Regions from separate parts of the Homo sapiens genome. Here region 2 is linked to region 1. The links come from fine-mapping of genetic effects on gene expression. Tissue or cell type: minor salivary gland. Region 1 holds a variant in brackets; the other region holds the start of a gene. All regions are shown on one strand. Distances are between the middles of the regions.

The links. PIP is the estimated chance that this variant, and not a neighbour inherited with it, causes the effect.
Region 2: ZBTB49 starts here. The variant in region 1 is fine-mapped to the expression of ZBTB49 in minor salivary gland (GTEx, PIP 0.92).

What each region holds. Positions count from the first base shown.
Region 1 is chr4:4,321,394-4,329,496 of GRCh38, reverse strand. It overlaps ZBTB49 (zinc finger and BTB domain containing 49), which reads right to left. Exons shown (of 8, transcript NM_145291.4): 8 at 7,714-8,103. Among named protein-coding and RNA genes, the nearest start is that of ZBTB49, 35 kb to the right of the region's middle. The variant C/T (reference allele first, on the strand shown) is at 3,508.
Region 2 is chr4:4,286,914-4,295,016 of GRCh38, reverse strand. It overlaps ZBTB49 (zinc finger and BTB domain containing 49), which reads right to left and starts at 4,766. Exons shown (of 8, transcript NM_145291.4): 1 at 4,665-4,766. LYAR (Ly1 antibody reactive) reads left to right here and starts at 4,863. Exons shown (of 10, transcript NM_017816.3): 1 at 4,863-4,981. RefSeq lists enhancers at 5,838-6,375, 6,376-6,914.

The sequences.
Region 1 (8,103 bases):
ACGCGCCTGTAATCCCAGCTACTCGGGAGGCTGAGGCGAGAGAATTGCTTGAACCCAGGAAGTGGAGGTTGCAGTGAGCTGAGATTGCACCACTGCGCTCCAGCCTGGGCGACAGAATGAGACTCCATCTCAAAAAAAAAAAAAAAAAAAAGAAGCAGCTGAACTGAAGCAGCAGCCCCAGAACACCAGGCTCTGTAGTTGCTGCTCCCACTTCTGTGGCAAGAAGCGGCATGAAGGAGACTGTGTTCCATTTTGAACTCTGCTCTACAGGGGAGCTGGATTCAGCTTCAGCCCGTGGGTGTAGACTCTGGAAGCAGCCACCTGGACACCAGCTAAACTCATGTCATCCTCACAGCAGTCCTGTGGGATAGGGCTACTTGGCTGTTAATATTATTTATTGTGGTAAAATACACACAACATGAAATTTACTATTTTCACCATTTTAAAGTGTACAATTCAGTGGCATTTAGTGTGTGTACAAGGTTGTGCAACCACCCCCACTGTATTAGTCTGCTCTGGCTGATATAACAAGATACCGCACGCTGGGGGGATTACGGTTTTTTTCTCACAGTTCTGGAGGTTGGAAGTCTAAGGTTTAAGGTGCCAGCAGGCTGGCTGTAGTGGCTCACACTGGTAACCCCAGTACTTTAGGAGGCCCAGAAGGGAGAATCGCTTGAGGCCAAGAGTTTGAGATCAGCCAGGGCAACAAAGTGAGATCCCATCTCTACAAAAAATAAAAATTAGCCAGACATGATGGCATGTGCCTATAGTTTACTAAGGAGGCTGAGGCAGGAGGATTGCTTGAGCCTAGGGGGAGGCTATGGTGAGCCAGGAGTGCATCACTGTACTCCAGCCTGGTTGACAGAGCAAGACCTTGTCTCTTTGTTTTTTTTGGTTTTTTTAAAAAAAAAAAGGAAAAAAAGGTGTCAGCAGCATTGATTTCTGGTGAGGCCTCTCTTCCTGGCTTGCAGACAGCCCAGCCTTCTCTCTGTATTCCCACATGGTCTTTCCGCATGTGCAGAGAGAGGCAGAGAATCTGGTGTCTCTTCCTTTTCTTCTAAGGACTCCAATCCTATGGAGTCAGGGCCCCATCCTTATGACCTAATTTAACCCTTATTACTTCCTTAACTGCCCCAGCTCCAAATACAGTCACCTTTGGGATTAGGGGGTTCAACATGTGAATTTTAGGGGGAGGGGGAAACAGTCCAGTCCATAACAACCAGTCTCTAGTTCCAGAACTTTTTCATCAACCCTCACAGAAACCCAGTGAGCAGTCAGTCACTCCCCATTCCCTCTCCCCCAGACCCTGGTCACCACTAACTTACTTTCTGTCTCTGTGGATTTGTCTGCTCTGGACATTTCATAAAAATGGGATAATAGGCCGGGCGTGGTCACCGAGGCCCCCCCGGGAGCTTGGCCAAGTTCACGCTGCTGTCAGATGCGGCGCCTGTTGGGAGCTGGGAGGTGGGGCCCCGGGCTGGGTTGCTCCTAGGGCAGCTCCAGCCTGAACGCTAAAGTCCAGGCCACAGTCAGCTCAACAGGGTGAAAAATACTTGACCGACTTCCCTTCTCAGGACACGCGCCTCCAAACCGGGGCAAGAGAGAGTGCCACTCTCCAACGGGCCCCTGGGGGTCGAAGGGGAAGGTCCCCAGTGTGCTTGGTCAGCTGCCCAGGGTTGCAGAAATGCTGCCCCTGCTGGTGGCCTTAACACGGGGAACAGCCGGGCCACGTCTCTGCCTGTTGCCAGTGGCTATGTTGTCATCTGGCGGCTGGAAGGAAACGCTGTAGCCCTGGGAGTTCAGGGAAGAGGGGCTTGGACCGAGTTCCTCCCGCCTGCTCAGAACCATGTGGGGCCTTCACAGACGTCCTGAGCTGAAGGAAAGTGACCGGAGTTTCACAGGGATTCAGAGTCAGTGTCGAAACACACGTTTTCTGACAAGGGAAGGTGTTTATGGCAATTTGCTACATGAAAGGCGGATTACAAAGTAGGTTGTACGGTATAAGCTACTTTGAAAAGCGTTCGCAGGGAGAGGTGGCTCACGCCTGTAATCCCAGCACTTTGGAGGCCGAGGCGGGCGGATCACGAGGTCAGGAGATCGAGACCATCCTGGCTAACACTGTGAAACCCCGTCTCTACTAAAAATACAGAAAAAAAAAAAAAGAAAAAAGAAAAGAAAAATAGCCAGGCGTGGTGGCGGGCGCCTGTAGTCCTAGCTACTCGGGAGGCTGAGGCAGGAGAATGGCGTGAACCTGGGAGGCAGAGCTTGCAGTGAGCCGAGATAGCGCCACTGCCCTCCAGCCTGGGGGACTGAGTGAGACTCTGTCAAAAAAATAAAATAAAATAAAATAAAAACCTTCAAGAGTCTATATTTCTTTTTGTCTGATTGCAGAGGGAAATGTCTGATAGGAAATAAACTGAGATGTGAACAGTGTGCCGCCGTATCGGATTGTCAAGGGACTTCACGAGAGAACGCATGCGATGCATGAAGGCCTTTTTTCCTTTTTACTTCTTTGTATTTTCTGATATATTTTCCTGTTGTCCATGTATTATTACTTGAGTAATTTAAGAAAAAAGAAGTGGCTGGGCACTGTGGCTCACGCCTGTAATCCCAGCACTTTGGGAGGCCGAGGTGTGAGAATTTCTCGAGTTGAGGTGTTTGAGATCAGCCTGGGCAACATAGTGAGACCCCGTCTCTACAAAAAAAAATTTAAAAATTAGCCGGCCATGGTGGTGCATGCCTGTGGTCCCAGATACTCGGGAAATTGAGGTGGGAGGATCACTTGAGGCCAGGAGTTCCAGACCAGCCTGGGCAACATAGTGAGACTCCATCTCTACAAAAAGTAAAAAAAAAAATTTAGTCAGGCATGGTGGTACTTCCCTGTGGTCCCAGACTATTTGGGAGGCTGAGGTGGGAAGATCACATGAGCATGGGAGGTTGAGGTTGCCATGAGCCGTGATCACCACTGCACTCCAGCCTGGGCAACAAAGTGAGACCCTGTCTCAAAAAGTAGTTAAAATAATAGGGAAGAATGCAAGATGCTCCTGGAGCAGGATGGGTGATGAGTATCATGAATACAATAGCAGTAGGTGTCTCTCCAGATCCATCACAACCCGGCAGGTGAACCCTGCGCTCCATTCCAGGCTGCATCTGATCCTGGCTTGGGGCTTGCCACCAGGTCATCCTGGAACTTTGGGACCCAACTCTCCTGGCTAGGTGGTATTGGGCAAGTTCCTTGACCTCTCAGGGAGTCACTTTCCCCAACTGTCCGTGGGGTAATTATGAGATACACCTTACAGGGCTCTTATGAAGCTTGAGTTGACTTGCAGAGCGTTTACCATTGTGCTGGCACATGATAGACACAATATGTCCTAGCTACTGTTATTATCCAGCAAGTCACTTCACATTTCAGGGTGTCTGTACAATGCGGGATTCACACTAGATCAGCATGCCTTCAAGTACTGTCCTTGCACTCCCTGCCTCAGAATCATCTAGAAAACCAGTTAA[C/T]TGCAGATTCCTAGGCCTTGCCCCAACCTATAGAATCATTTCCAAACATCTGCATTGTCAACAAGTCTTCCAGCTGAGTCACAAAAGGTTGAAGCCCATGGAATAGGGTACAGTTGCTAAGGTCCCTTTCCACTCAGACATTTTGAGATGCTGGGGGTTTTCTGATGATCTGCCCAGCCTCTTGGCCTCTGCTTCCAACTTGGTAATGGAAGCCAGGTCTTGACGCTGGAAGGTTCTACAGAAACCTAGCCATGGGCCATTCTTAGAAAATCATAGAGCTCTAAAATGGAAATTCTGTAGCCATTGCATGTCAGGACACTGAAGACCAGTGAGAAGAGGGCATTTGTCGCACAGTCAGCTAGCGATGGAGCCAAGAACACAGTCCTGGTGTCCTGACTGGGATAAAAGGTGTGTGCACACATGCGGGAACACACACGCACACACACACTGTTATTCTTGCTGTGGATGGCCCATGCTGTGTCTACAGCACAAGGTCAAGGTCTGGTCCGCTGTCAGATAATTTGCTGTCCAAGTTTGCACTCATGCATATGCAAGCCTTTTCACCTCTTCTGAGATTTTCTTTCTTTAGGATAAGGCTTTGGGGCCAGGGTAACAAGAACAGAAAAGGAAGAGACAGGAAATGTGAATGAAAAGGGCTTTGGGGTTTTGGTTTGTTTGTTTTTGGAGACAGAGCCTCATTCTGTTGCCCAGGCTGGGGCGCAGTGGCACTATCTCAGCTCACTGCAACCTCCGCCTCCTGGTTCAAGCGATTCTCCTGTCTCAGCCTCCTGAGTAGCTGGGATCACAGGCACCTGCCACCACACCCAGCTGATTTTTGTATTTTTAGTAGAGATGGGGTTTCACCATGTTGGCCAGGCTGGTCTTGAACTCTTGACATCTACCCACCTCAGCCTCCCAAAGTGCTGGAATTACAGGCATGAGCCATTGAGCCCAGCTGAGAGCTTTGGTTTTAATGCTATTCCCTAAAGTTTTATTCTACAAGAGCAAATTATTGTCCTCATCAAGCAGATTTATTCAAAAATGTGACTTGGCCTAGGGGTCTTGTTTTCTGAGCCTTTGGCAAATCCAGCACCTGGCATACAGGAGGCACCTCCATACTTATACTGATGAAGTAAGATAACTCTTAAGGTTTTTAGTCTGAGTAAAATCCTGGAGGAACAGGATTGCCATTTAATAAGGTGGCCATGAATTGAGAAGACAAGGAGCTTGGTCTTGAAAGCTCTTAGTCTGGGGTGTCTGTGAAGACGCTGGTAGGCAGCTCAGGACAGGAATCCAGAGTTTTGGGAGGAGTCATGGGCAGACAGTATTTAAGGTCATGAGATGTGAGTGTAAGAGTTAAATAAAGAGGAAAGAAACATGAAAAGCCACTCAACAGTCAAAGATAGGTTATTTTGGAAAATAAACCTGAGAGGGGCTTCTGGCCGACTTAGGTCAGAGGCCCTCTCTCTTACAAAATAAGAGTATTTAAGGGTTCAGGGTGGGAGAGCTTATCACAGGCTCGGAATGTTTCTGTGTCTCTTTGTCTTGCTTATCTGGGAGGGAGAGTTTTTGCATCTGTTCCCACACATCTTCCTGCAGCTGCAGGCATACCACCCGAGTTTGCTTTTAGCTTCCCTATCTCAGCATGCCTAAAGGGAAAGAAATGTGCTTATTAGGGCCCACTGTTTTACTGGGGCCCATTGTATGAGGGTGAAGTTTGGTGGTTACGAAGAGACTTTCCCTCCTCCCTCTGTGCTCAAGCTGTCTTATCTGTGTTTCATTGTCTGCTCTTCCTGGCTGCATTTCCTTGAAACGCATGAGGTTAGAAAGGGAGCTGGAACTTTTGGAGTTGTTTGTCCAAGATGACAGTGCTCCTGCTCTGTCATTGAGGAGATGGCCTAGGGACAGAGCCAAGGCCGGAGAGGAGGTCCAGGGCCTGTGTTCTTAAAGTTGGGGCACCCCAACTTTAAGATGTGTGTTGGGGTAGGGGAAGGAGTCCAAGACAGAGCCACCCGTGCATGAAGGGGAATCCTAGCAGGAGTGGTCCTCTTGGTTGTTGTTTCAAGGAGAAAAAAGGAATGCACTTGCTGCCGACGTGTCATATCCTGCCTCAGAGTCATTAGGAAGGGGACTGAGAATTCTCACTCGGTTTAGCAATGGGGAGGTCGTGGGCCACCTGGGCAAAAAGTATTTCAGTGGAGTCTGATGAACAAGGTTCAGGAGAAAAAAATCAATCAATCTAGGAGGTCCAGTATTTTGACTAAAAAGTATTCCAAAGACATTCATTTGACTATTTGTTACTGAGCATTTAGGGTCAGGCACTGTTCTGGGCACTGAGGATAAAGCAGTGAACAAAAGAGACACAAAGAGTTTATATCCTGGCCAGGCTCGGTGGCTCATGCCCGTAATCCTAGCACTTTGGGAGGCCTAAGCGGGAGGATTACTTGAGCTCAGGAGTTTGAGACCAGCCTGGGCAACATAGTGAGACTCTGTATCTATTTAAAAAAAAAAAAAGAAGAGGTTACATCGTAATAGGGGAAGATTATATAGTAGGTCAGATGGTGATAATAAGACTTAGTGAGAAAAAGCAGAGGTGGGAAATCAAGGGGTTGGGGGCAGGTTGGTTTTAGATGGGAAAGTGCAGAGTCCACGGGCACAGATGTGGGGAGGTAGGGAGGTGTTATGGGAGCTTGAGGAATGTTCTTTCCTATTTGTTTCTTTTTTCTTTTCCTTTTTTTTTTTTTTTTTTTTTGAGACAGCCTTGCTCGGTTGCCCAGGCTGGAGTGCAGAGGTGCGATCTCACTGCAACCTCCGCTTCCCAGGTTCAAGCGATTCTCGTGCCTCAGCCTCCTGAGTAGCTGGGACTACAGGCATGTGGCAGTATACCTAATTTTTGTATTTTTAGTAGAGATGAGGTTTCACCATGTTGGCCAGGCTGGTCTCGAACTCCTGACCTCAAGTGACCCACCTGCCTCAGCCTCCCAACGTGTTGAGATTACAGGTGTGAGCCACCACGCCTGGCCCCTATTTGCTTCTAGGTTCTGAGAGAAATAGGAAGCAAGGCCATAAGGAGGAGGACAGGCGAGCTGCAGAGGTCTGAGAAGATGTGACACAAGTGCCTAGGGCAGCACGTCGCCTGGATCAAGGAGAGGGGATTGTAGGATACGGCGGGGGCTCAGGAGAGCTGTAGAAACTAGAGAATGGCTGTTTCTCACCAGCCTGGCTGGGCTCCCTGTGTGTAGTGCTGGAGGTTCACCAGGTGGAATGGATAAAGGGGTTGGTGGGTGAACCATGGCCAAGGAGGGTCCACAGGGACAGCTAAGGGGATGGATGCACTGTAGGTGCTGGGAGGCTGAAGAGCTACACGAGTTGGGATGAGGGAGGAGCCAGAGGAGGCCATGAGAGGAGAGGACATGGGGAGGAAGGAGGAAGATCTGCACTCACGTGCGGCCATTGTGTTCCAAGTTCACTCCATGTGTGCAATGGGGACAACAGATGCTCGCTGAGCCAGCCTGGCAGAAGCGTAGTGCAGCTGATGGATGGGAAAACACGAAATGCACCTGTAATGGACTTCAGAGCTGATGCCCTACTCTGCAACTGTGCTGTTTTTCTATGAAAATCCTCTCCTCCTCACTGGTCTCTCGTTGAGTATCTTGTACTTCTGAGTTAGAGCTGCTCACGAGTATTCGAGGGTGCTCTCCACACAGTCCTCCGTGTAGGGTGCTCTCCAGTCTTCCGTGCAGGCAGTGCTATAAGCAGATCACCTGTGACGTGCCACATCCCCAGTCTCACCTTGATATTCCAGCGACAGAGCCACGGGCACATCTCCTTCCTGCAGAGGCTGTCAAGCCCGCTGGGAAGGGGAAGTAAATATTTAGAACGCCCTGTCAAGGGCCAGGCGCCGGGCAGGTATTTTCAAGTGAGTGCTCAGATCAGACAAGCCTTGTGAAAATACTGGAAGATGTTCCTCTCATACTGCAAAAAAGAAACTCCAGAGAAGATCCTGAGAGGGTGAACAGCTCACCCATGACCTTGCCAGTAAGTGGCAGCCAGGAGTCAGGCAGTTCTGACCACTGAGAAACCCGCTGTACCAGGAGGGAGACTGACCAATGAGGTTCTTATCCTTGCAGAGTGAGTCCTCGCTGCTATTTATTTTTATACCCCTATAGTCTTTAGATTAATAAAAATGCTAGAGGAAACATATAATATATAGAAAAGTTTCATTTATTCGAATTAAATTATGGTATGAGTTTCATATACAAATAAATTCTGTGTAAATAATACAAAATGCTACAAATTTCAATCTTGTAAAAATGCAAAAATACTTGTAATACTATACATATATAATTCCTTTCACATGACCAACATGTACAGTAGTTGACACGATGCACACGCGCTTCCCCCCCACAGCTGAGGCTGCTGAGACAGCATCAAGCCTTCGCTTCTGTGACGTCAGCGCTCCCTCCCGCGGCTGCCTCACGGTGAGCCAGCAGGCCCTCCCCCTCACACCCCCAGCTCAAGATGCTTCAGATTATGAGCCATCATCAGGAGGGAAGCTACCTATTCTCTGGCTAGTTAGAAGGCACTGTCATGGGG
Region 2 (8,103 bases), 34 kb after region 1:
CAACTATTATGTGCCAAAGGCAGGATTTGAATCCTGGCCCCCAAACACTGGAGTCTATGCTTTTATGCTATGCTATCGCCCACGGGAAAAAAGACATTAAACACACACACACACACACACACACACACACACACACACACACACGAAACCCTCCTCCACAGACCTGTTAAAATTAGGTAAAAATGTCTAATTATACAAATGTAAATGTCTAGGTATATTAGGTAAATGTCTAATTAGAAAATTAGACATTTTCTAGCTCTATAGAAGTGATAAAGGAAAAAGTTATTTGGAATGACCCCCAGAGTTATGATGCTAGGCAGTTATTAACTGTTACACAATTTACTTTTACTATAGGAATTAGAGGCTGGGTGCGGTGGCTCATGCTTGTAATTCTACCACTTTGGGAGGCCGAGGCAGGCGGATCACCTAAGGCTACGAGTTCGAGACCAGTCTAGCCAACACGAAGAAACCATCTCCACTAAAAATACAAAAATTAGCCAGGCGTGGTGACGCATGCCTATAATACCAGCTACTCTGGAGGCTGAGGCAGGAGAATCGCTTGAACCCAGAAGGCCGAGGTTCCAGTGAGCCGAGATTGCACCACTGCACTCCAGCCTGGGCAACAGAACGAGACTCCATCTCAAAATAATAATTATTATTATTCCATATCATTTTGTATAGTTCTCTAAATTACTTCATGATGTCAATCCTGTACCTCCCCAGTAAGGTTATAAAAAGGTCTGGAAACCCCAATAAGGTTATTAAAAGGTCTGGAAACCCCAATGAGGTTATAAAAAGGTCTGGAAAAAAAATTGTATCTTACATTTCTTATGTGTTCTGTCAATTATAAACAAAAATGTATCTTATACCTAATAATAGTAATGATTATGACAAATACTTATGTTTCCTAGATGCCAGGCACTATTCTAAGCCCTTTACACTTATTAACTCATTTACCATAAGATAGGTGCTACTATTATCCACATTTTACAGGTGAGGACAATGAGGAATTTGTCAGATTTAAGATGGCCACAAATTCTCCGATGATTCTCCCATGGGGTAGTGGAGTCTAGGTCTCCTTCCCTCCTGCACAGGCTCTGCCTTAATCAGATTCTGTGCTACAAAGCTGTGCTCATTTCCCAGGCCCAGGCCTTTAAAGAGCTAACAGCTTCCACTTCCCATCTTTCAGAACAGTGGCTATGGAAGGCCTGAGCCACCTGTAAGATGCCCAGCTAGAGAGAACACATGGAGACAGAGAAGGGTTCAGCTGGCTCCCAGGAAAGCCATCCTGACCTCTCCAGGCTGGCCCCTCCTCCAACTGAATGCCACTGAGTGATCCCAGTTGACACCACATAGAATTGAAGAATTTCTCAGCTGACACCTGCCTGAATACCTAACCTGCAGAATTATGAGATAAAATAGTTTTTGAGTCACTAAATTTGGGGGTAGAGTGTTACACAGCAACAGAAAACCTGACCATATACAGAGAAGATGGTCACACAGCTAAAAATAGGTAAGTAATAAGGGACAGAGGTGGGATTCAGAGCCAGGGAATCTGACACCAAAGCCGCATTCATAACCACTGTTTCCTTTGATCGGAATCAGCTGCCTCTTCAGTCTACTGCCTATGCCTGATTGTCCAGGTAATCCCACAGACAAGCTTTGCATTAAGGAACTGCACAATTCAGGACTAAGATGTGCTACACAAGGTGTTATAGCGTGAGAGAAGGAGCAGAAGGTTCTCTTCCATCTTTGCGACTAACTCACCTAGTGACAAGCAGTAAAAATTTTCTGTGGTGAAGACATGGACTCCATCTGTCTTATTGAACAATGTATCTCTGGTGCCTAGCAGAGTGTCTTTGACATAATAGGCACTCAATACATATTTCTGGATGGATGAGACTCTGGGCCTCAGTTTTTCATCTATAAAAATGGAGAGGTCCCCTATTGGACTAGATGATCTCTTTTAGAGGTTTTTTCCTAGTTCTAAAAGCTACAAATCTATACAAGGAATGTGATGGTGGAAAGATGGTATGAATGGCGTCAAAAAATGAAAATATGGGGGGAAAAGAAACAAGAAAAAGTTTAGATCAATGTGAATGAAGAAATGCTTCTAAAGAAAACAACAGCCAGAATGGAATTTCAACCTGCAGAGAGGACTCCTAGAGCAAAGGCCCCTCAATTCTACCAACAGGTCAAATACTACTGGATAGAATTTGTGGATGTTTTTTCAGCAGTGCCATTAATAGATTACTTCTCCAAGGGCCCACAGTTCACGCACCTTAAAGTCAAGCTTACCTCAGAGGGCTCCTAAGGAGTCTGCCCATCATCATACTTTCCAAATGGCTTACTTGTAGCTCCTCACCTCCACCCTACTCATAAAAGCACTGGCTTGAAGCAACAAACCTGGAATCTTGTCTTAGCTTTATGCTGACTCTTATCATACTGGGAAGGCCAATTGGGTTAAACAGATACTGTGTGCCTAACATGTGCAACAGATTGTCGCGAGGATGGAATGCTGACAAACGGAACAGATGTGTTCCCTACTCTTCACAGGCTCTGTGTCTCAGTTTTCCATCATTCACTTAACTTTACACAATGCCCATTATGCGCTAGGCACTGAAGGTACGATGGCAAACACATCAGATACGGTCATCCATGTCTTCATGAAGCATCAGTCTAGTGGGAAAAACAAGTATCGTTGCACTGTACCAGAGTTATTTTTTATTTTTTTCCGAGACGCAGTCTTGCTCAGTTGACCAGGCTGGAGTGGAGTGGTGTGCTTTCGGCTCAGTGCAACCTCCACCTCCTGGGTTCAAGCGATTCTTCTGCCTCAGCCTCCCGAGTAGCTGGGATTACAGGCATGCACCACCACACCCAGCTAATTTTTGTATTTTTAGTAAGGACGAGGGGTGGGGGTCTCACCATGTTGGCCAGGCTGGTGTCAAACTCCTGACCTCAAATGATCCACTCGCCTCAGCCTCCCAAAGTGCTGGGATTACAGGCATGCGCCACCACACCCGCCTAATTTTGGTACTCTTAGTAGAGATGGGGTTTACAGGGTTTCACCATGTTGGCCAGGCTGGTCTCTATCTCTTGACCTCAGGAGCTGCCTGCCTCGGCCTCCCAAAGCGCTGGGATTACAGGCGTGAGCCACCGCACCCAGCCCTGTACCAAAGTTATTAAATGGAGGAAGCAGAAATTAATTTGGGAGGGAGGGTCAGGGAAAACTTCCTGGAAGACACATCTATGCTGAAATGTGAGTTAAGTTTGCCAGACTAAAAAAATGAGAGGGCTCACTTTCTTTGAGTATTCAGGAGGACAAACAAACAAACAACAACAACCAAACCCAAAAACAGTACGAGAGCACAAACAAGACTGAAGTACACATATGTGCCCTGAACACAAAAAACATCTTGAGCACCCTGCTTTTAAGCCTCCTGGCCATTCTGTCACTTCTGTTGGAAAGTATTTCCCTCCTTGTCCATTTCTGTGAATTCCTTCTGTTATGGTTAAACTGTTCCCCCAGCACTCCAGAATGTGATTGTATTTGGAGATCAGGCTTGTAAGAAGGTAATTAAGTTAAAATGAGGCCATTAAGGTGGGCCCTAATACAACCTGACTGACGTTCTCATAAAGAGGAAATCTGGATGCAAAGAGAGACGCCAGAGATGTGAAAACACAGAGGAAAGACCATGCGAGGACACAGCAAGAAAGCAGCCACGTGCAAGCCAAGGAGAAATGTCTCAGAAGAAACCAAACCTGAAGACACCTTGATCTTGGACTTCTAACCTCCAGAACTGTGAGAAAATAATAAATTTCTGTTGTTTAAGCCACCCAGTATTTTGTTTGCAGTCCTAGCAAACTAATACACCTTCTATTCCAGGCCCAACACTGCTCACTTTCAGAGTGAAACCTTATCACCCATATACACACACCTTGGGAGTGAAGGTTTCTCACAATACTCTGTGCATCCTCCACTCAACTTTCATTCATTCATTTAAGCAACAAACACCTAGTGACCACCACTGTGTGCCAGACCCTGTTTTAAGGGCTGAGAAGAGCTAACGTTTATTGAGTACTTACTAAGTGGCAGCCACTAGTCTAAGCGATTTACATGCACCAACTCATGAAATACGACAAGGTTCCAGGGACGCAGGTGCCGCTATGACATTCGCTTTACAGATGCGGGGCTGAGGCACAAAGAGGCCACACCGTAATGAAACTGAGCTAGGCTGTGGGCTCTGTCGTCTTAAGCGCTACTCTCAACTACAGCGTGGAAGGAAACAGAAGCCGAGAGATGGGCAGCGCGTAGCGGAGGCGGGCCGGGCTGGCTTCCAGCGGGCAAAGCCTGGAGATGAGAGGGCGCGGGTGGGGTTTCCAGGCCGAGGAAGCTGCACCAGGGAGAAGGCCCGGCTCCCAGGCCCGGAACCTGGCCGTCTGGGTCTCAGTCCGCGTCCCCTGTGATGCCCGGCACAGAGCAAATGCTCGCTGACTCTCGCAGGAGCCGCCAACCCCCCGGGTATCCTCGAGTGCCCAGAGACGGGAAGGAGCGGTGGGTCCATGCCCTTCTGGGCCACCTTCGGGCGCCCGGCCTCCCTTCCCTTCCGGGCCATTCCCACCAGCGCCAGCCCCGCACGCCTTCGCAAGGCCGGCCACCTTACCCTCGGAGGCCGCTCTCTGCCCCGCCGCCTACTCTTCACCTGCAGCAGCTGCCTTCAAGGCCACTCGCAGCGATCCGCTGGCCGCGGAATCATCACGACAACGCCCCCTTGGCTTGCCGGAACCGCCTTCCTGCTTCCGTTGGCGTCACTTCCACTGGGGGGGGCGTGGCCGCGGTGCGCAGGCGCGCTGGGTGGTTCAGAAGCGAATTCTGCACCGCGAAGCCTGAGAGGCAGGTAGCTGCGGCGCTGGGCTGGCGGCGGCGAGTCCACGTGCTCCCCGCGGCCGGTTGAAACCGTTGGCGGGCGCTGGCTGAGAGGTGAGGGGTGGTGGCCCAGAGGTCCGACCTGGGAGGCTGGGGCTCAGAGAGTGAGTAGGGGAGGGACGGGATTTCCACCGTCAGCCCCTCTGGGTTACGCATGGAGGAAGGAGTTCCATTCAGATCTCACTCCTGCTCTGGGGAAGTGGCAGGAGTCCTGGACTTAGGGTGACCAACTCGTTTTAGTTTTAAAACTTAAGGTCCGGCGTCCTGGGAACTCCCTCGGGCCTGGCCAAACCAGGACGATTGGTCACCGCCCGACTGGGCTTCAGGCTTGCTGCATGTTGGAGACAGGGCTCTTCTCTGAGCCTTGGGAGATCAGTCCCTAAAGAGGAGGCCTTAGGATGTAGCGGTCCAGAGCACATACTTAGGATCAGAATAACTACTGCGTGTGAATCTGGGTTGCCACTACCTGGATGTGGGATGACCTGGTGTAAGTTTTTTAACCTCTTTGCGCCTCACTTTCCTCATCTGTCATAACATATAGAATCTAACTCGGAGAACTGTGATGAGGATTACATGAGTAGAAATGTGTTAACCTCCTATGAGAGGGCTTGGGTGCTCCATGAATGTTAGGATTCTCTGAAGCACCTACCTCTGAGGAGAGAGGGAGGAGGATGAGGTGGGGTCTGTATTTGCAACCCTGATTTCTAGCAGAGAGGGCCCACTTGGGACTTACTCACACTGTGCCCGAGGCTCCCAGGGTCTAGCATAGTGCCTGACACATGGTAGTTACTCGAGTGAAGGGATGGTGTTTAAAACAGTGCTGGTGATGCCGTGGGTGGGGTAGGAGGCAGAGAGAAATGGCTTCTGTGCCTCAGTTTGCTCATCTGTTTAGTGGAGATAGGTGCACCTACTTCCCAGGGCTTTTGCAAGGAACAAGGGAGAGATTCTCTCCTTGTGAATGTCACCCATTGTAACCCTTGTCAGCCTCATACACAAAGGTTTAGGCAGGATGGTGGACAGAGTATGTTTGTCTGTCCTTCTCTTGCACCATACCCATGGTTTCTCAGAATGCTACCCGTGGAAGGGGCTTGAGTCTTGTCAAGTTGGCCTGACTTCTTGTTTCACAGATGAGATAACTTGAAGTTTATAGAGGCAGTGGCATGCTCAGGGTCACAGTGTTCAGTGGGGGATATCCTGGGGTTGCCAGCTAGGCCCCTCAGGTGGGCTGTTTGAGTGGTAGTGGTGGTAATGATGTGTAGGTCAGTGTCTGCATGTGCATGCAAGAATATTTTAAGAATAGTCAAGGCCAAGCGCAGTGGCCCGTGCCTGTCATCCGAGCACTTTGGGAGGCCGAGGAGGGTGGATCACCTGAGGTCAAGAGTTCACAACCAGCCTGGCCAACATGGTGAAACTCCGTCTCTACTAAAAATACAAAAATTAGCCGGGCATGGTGGCATGTGCCTGTAATCCCAGCTACTGGGGAGGCTGAGGCCGGAGAATCACTTGAACCTGGGAGGCAAAGGCTGCAGTGAGCCGAGATTGCGCCATTGTACTCCAGCCTGGGCAACAGAATGAGACTCCGTCTCAAAAAAAAAAAAAAAAAGAAAAAAAATTGAATAAGTAATACAAAAATATAGAGGGAAGAAGATTTAAAAAAAATCATTCCAATCTCAGAACCAAACCTAAGGGCATGTTATCAGGGAACTTGGTAAAGTAGGCAGCCATGGGGTGAGGAGCCAGAGAAGGTTGGAGTGAATTTATGAACATAAATGGGTGGGTTGATGGTCATATTTAAAGGAGCATGGGTTTAGGAGGGGGCTGGGTATAATAGCATTGATGTGCAAATTAGTAGGTCACAGAGAAACCTTTCTACAATTGGGCAGGGATGAAGCTTTCATATCTGGTGTCTTATTTAACTTTCCACCCAATGCTTTGAGTTAGGTATTAGATCCATTTTACAGATAAACAGATTCTGGGAAGTTAAGGTGCTTTGAGGTCATTTAGTTTTTAATGACTTTTTTGACATTAGCAGATGTAGGCTCCAGCTCAGATCCTCTACACCTGAGTCAGGGCCCTGTCCAACAAAAGCTGGCAACCATCTTGTTAAGAGAAGACTAACAAGTTCCCAGCCCCTTAGTGACCACTGGCTGCTGCCCCTCAGCTAGCTTTGCTGTCCAGACCCTGACAGCCTCTCCTGTGACATGGGTGGTCTCCTTGCCCACTGCACAGAGGTTTTATAATTAAGACTTAGGGTTCTAATATTTATACATGGAAAGTCATCTTATAGAGACCTTAATTTTTTTTCTCTTTGGATGAGGACCTCAAGGTCCCAGGTGCTGAGTAACCACCAAGCAAACGGCTAGGACATGGCAGGTCAAGATGGAGGCAGGGTGGGAGCCTGGGCTTGCTGCCTGGTCTTTCAGGCCACCTCTGCCACTTACTGTGACTTCGGGCAGTTCACTTACCCTCCTGAGCCTTAGGTTTTCTCTCCAGATGGAGGTAGTATGATCATAGCAGTCTTAGTGGTATTGGGGGCAGTTGTGTTCATAAATGGGACACGGCTTTGTAGAGAGCTAATGATCATGTGTTCTATGGTGCAGACCCCGTCATCTTTTTCATGGGTATGGCATGTGATGAGAGCTCAGTAAACTGACCATACAGACAGACGAAGACGCAGCCAGGAGCACACGCAGAGGACCTGCGTGAGGGCCCCAGGTGTATCTGGGTGGATAGGATAGTGTCAGCATTCAGGAAATGTCTGCCGAATTGAGTTAAAGTGACTGAGCAAGAACCGAAGTATGCTCTCAACCAGTCCAAGAACACTGCCTTCTGCCTGCCTTTCTCTTTTAACATGCGCATGTGGCCAGAAGGAAAGCATGTAGAATCTCTCTGGCTGCGCTGGGACTGGACATTGGGCAGAGGGAGTTGGGGAGCCAGGGAAGGAAAAGAGGACTCTATTTAGATCCAGCCCCATGAAAAAACTGCTGTCTTTTTACACTTAGGGCTAGATGTTGAAATCTGTCACATCTGAGCCCGGCAGACTGGGTGTCCTCAAAATCTTAATGCAGTTTTAAGCTTTCATAATTTCAGAAGCATAAATGATCCAAACTTGCCAAAACATCATTTAAAATTTAATTAAGGCCGGGCGCGGTGGCTCACGCCTGTAATCCCAGCAC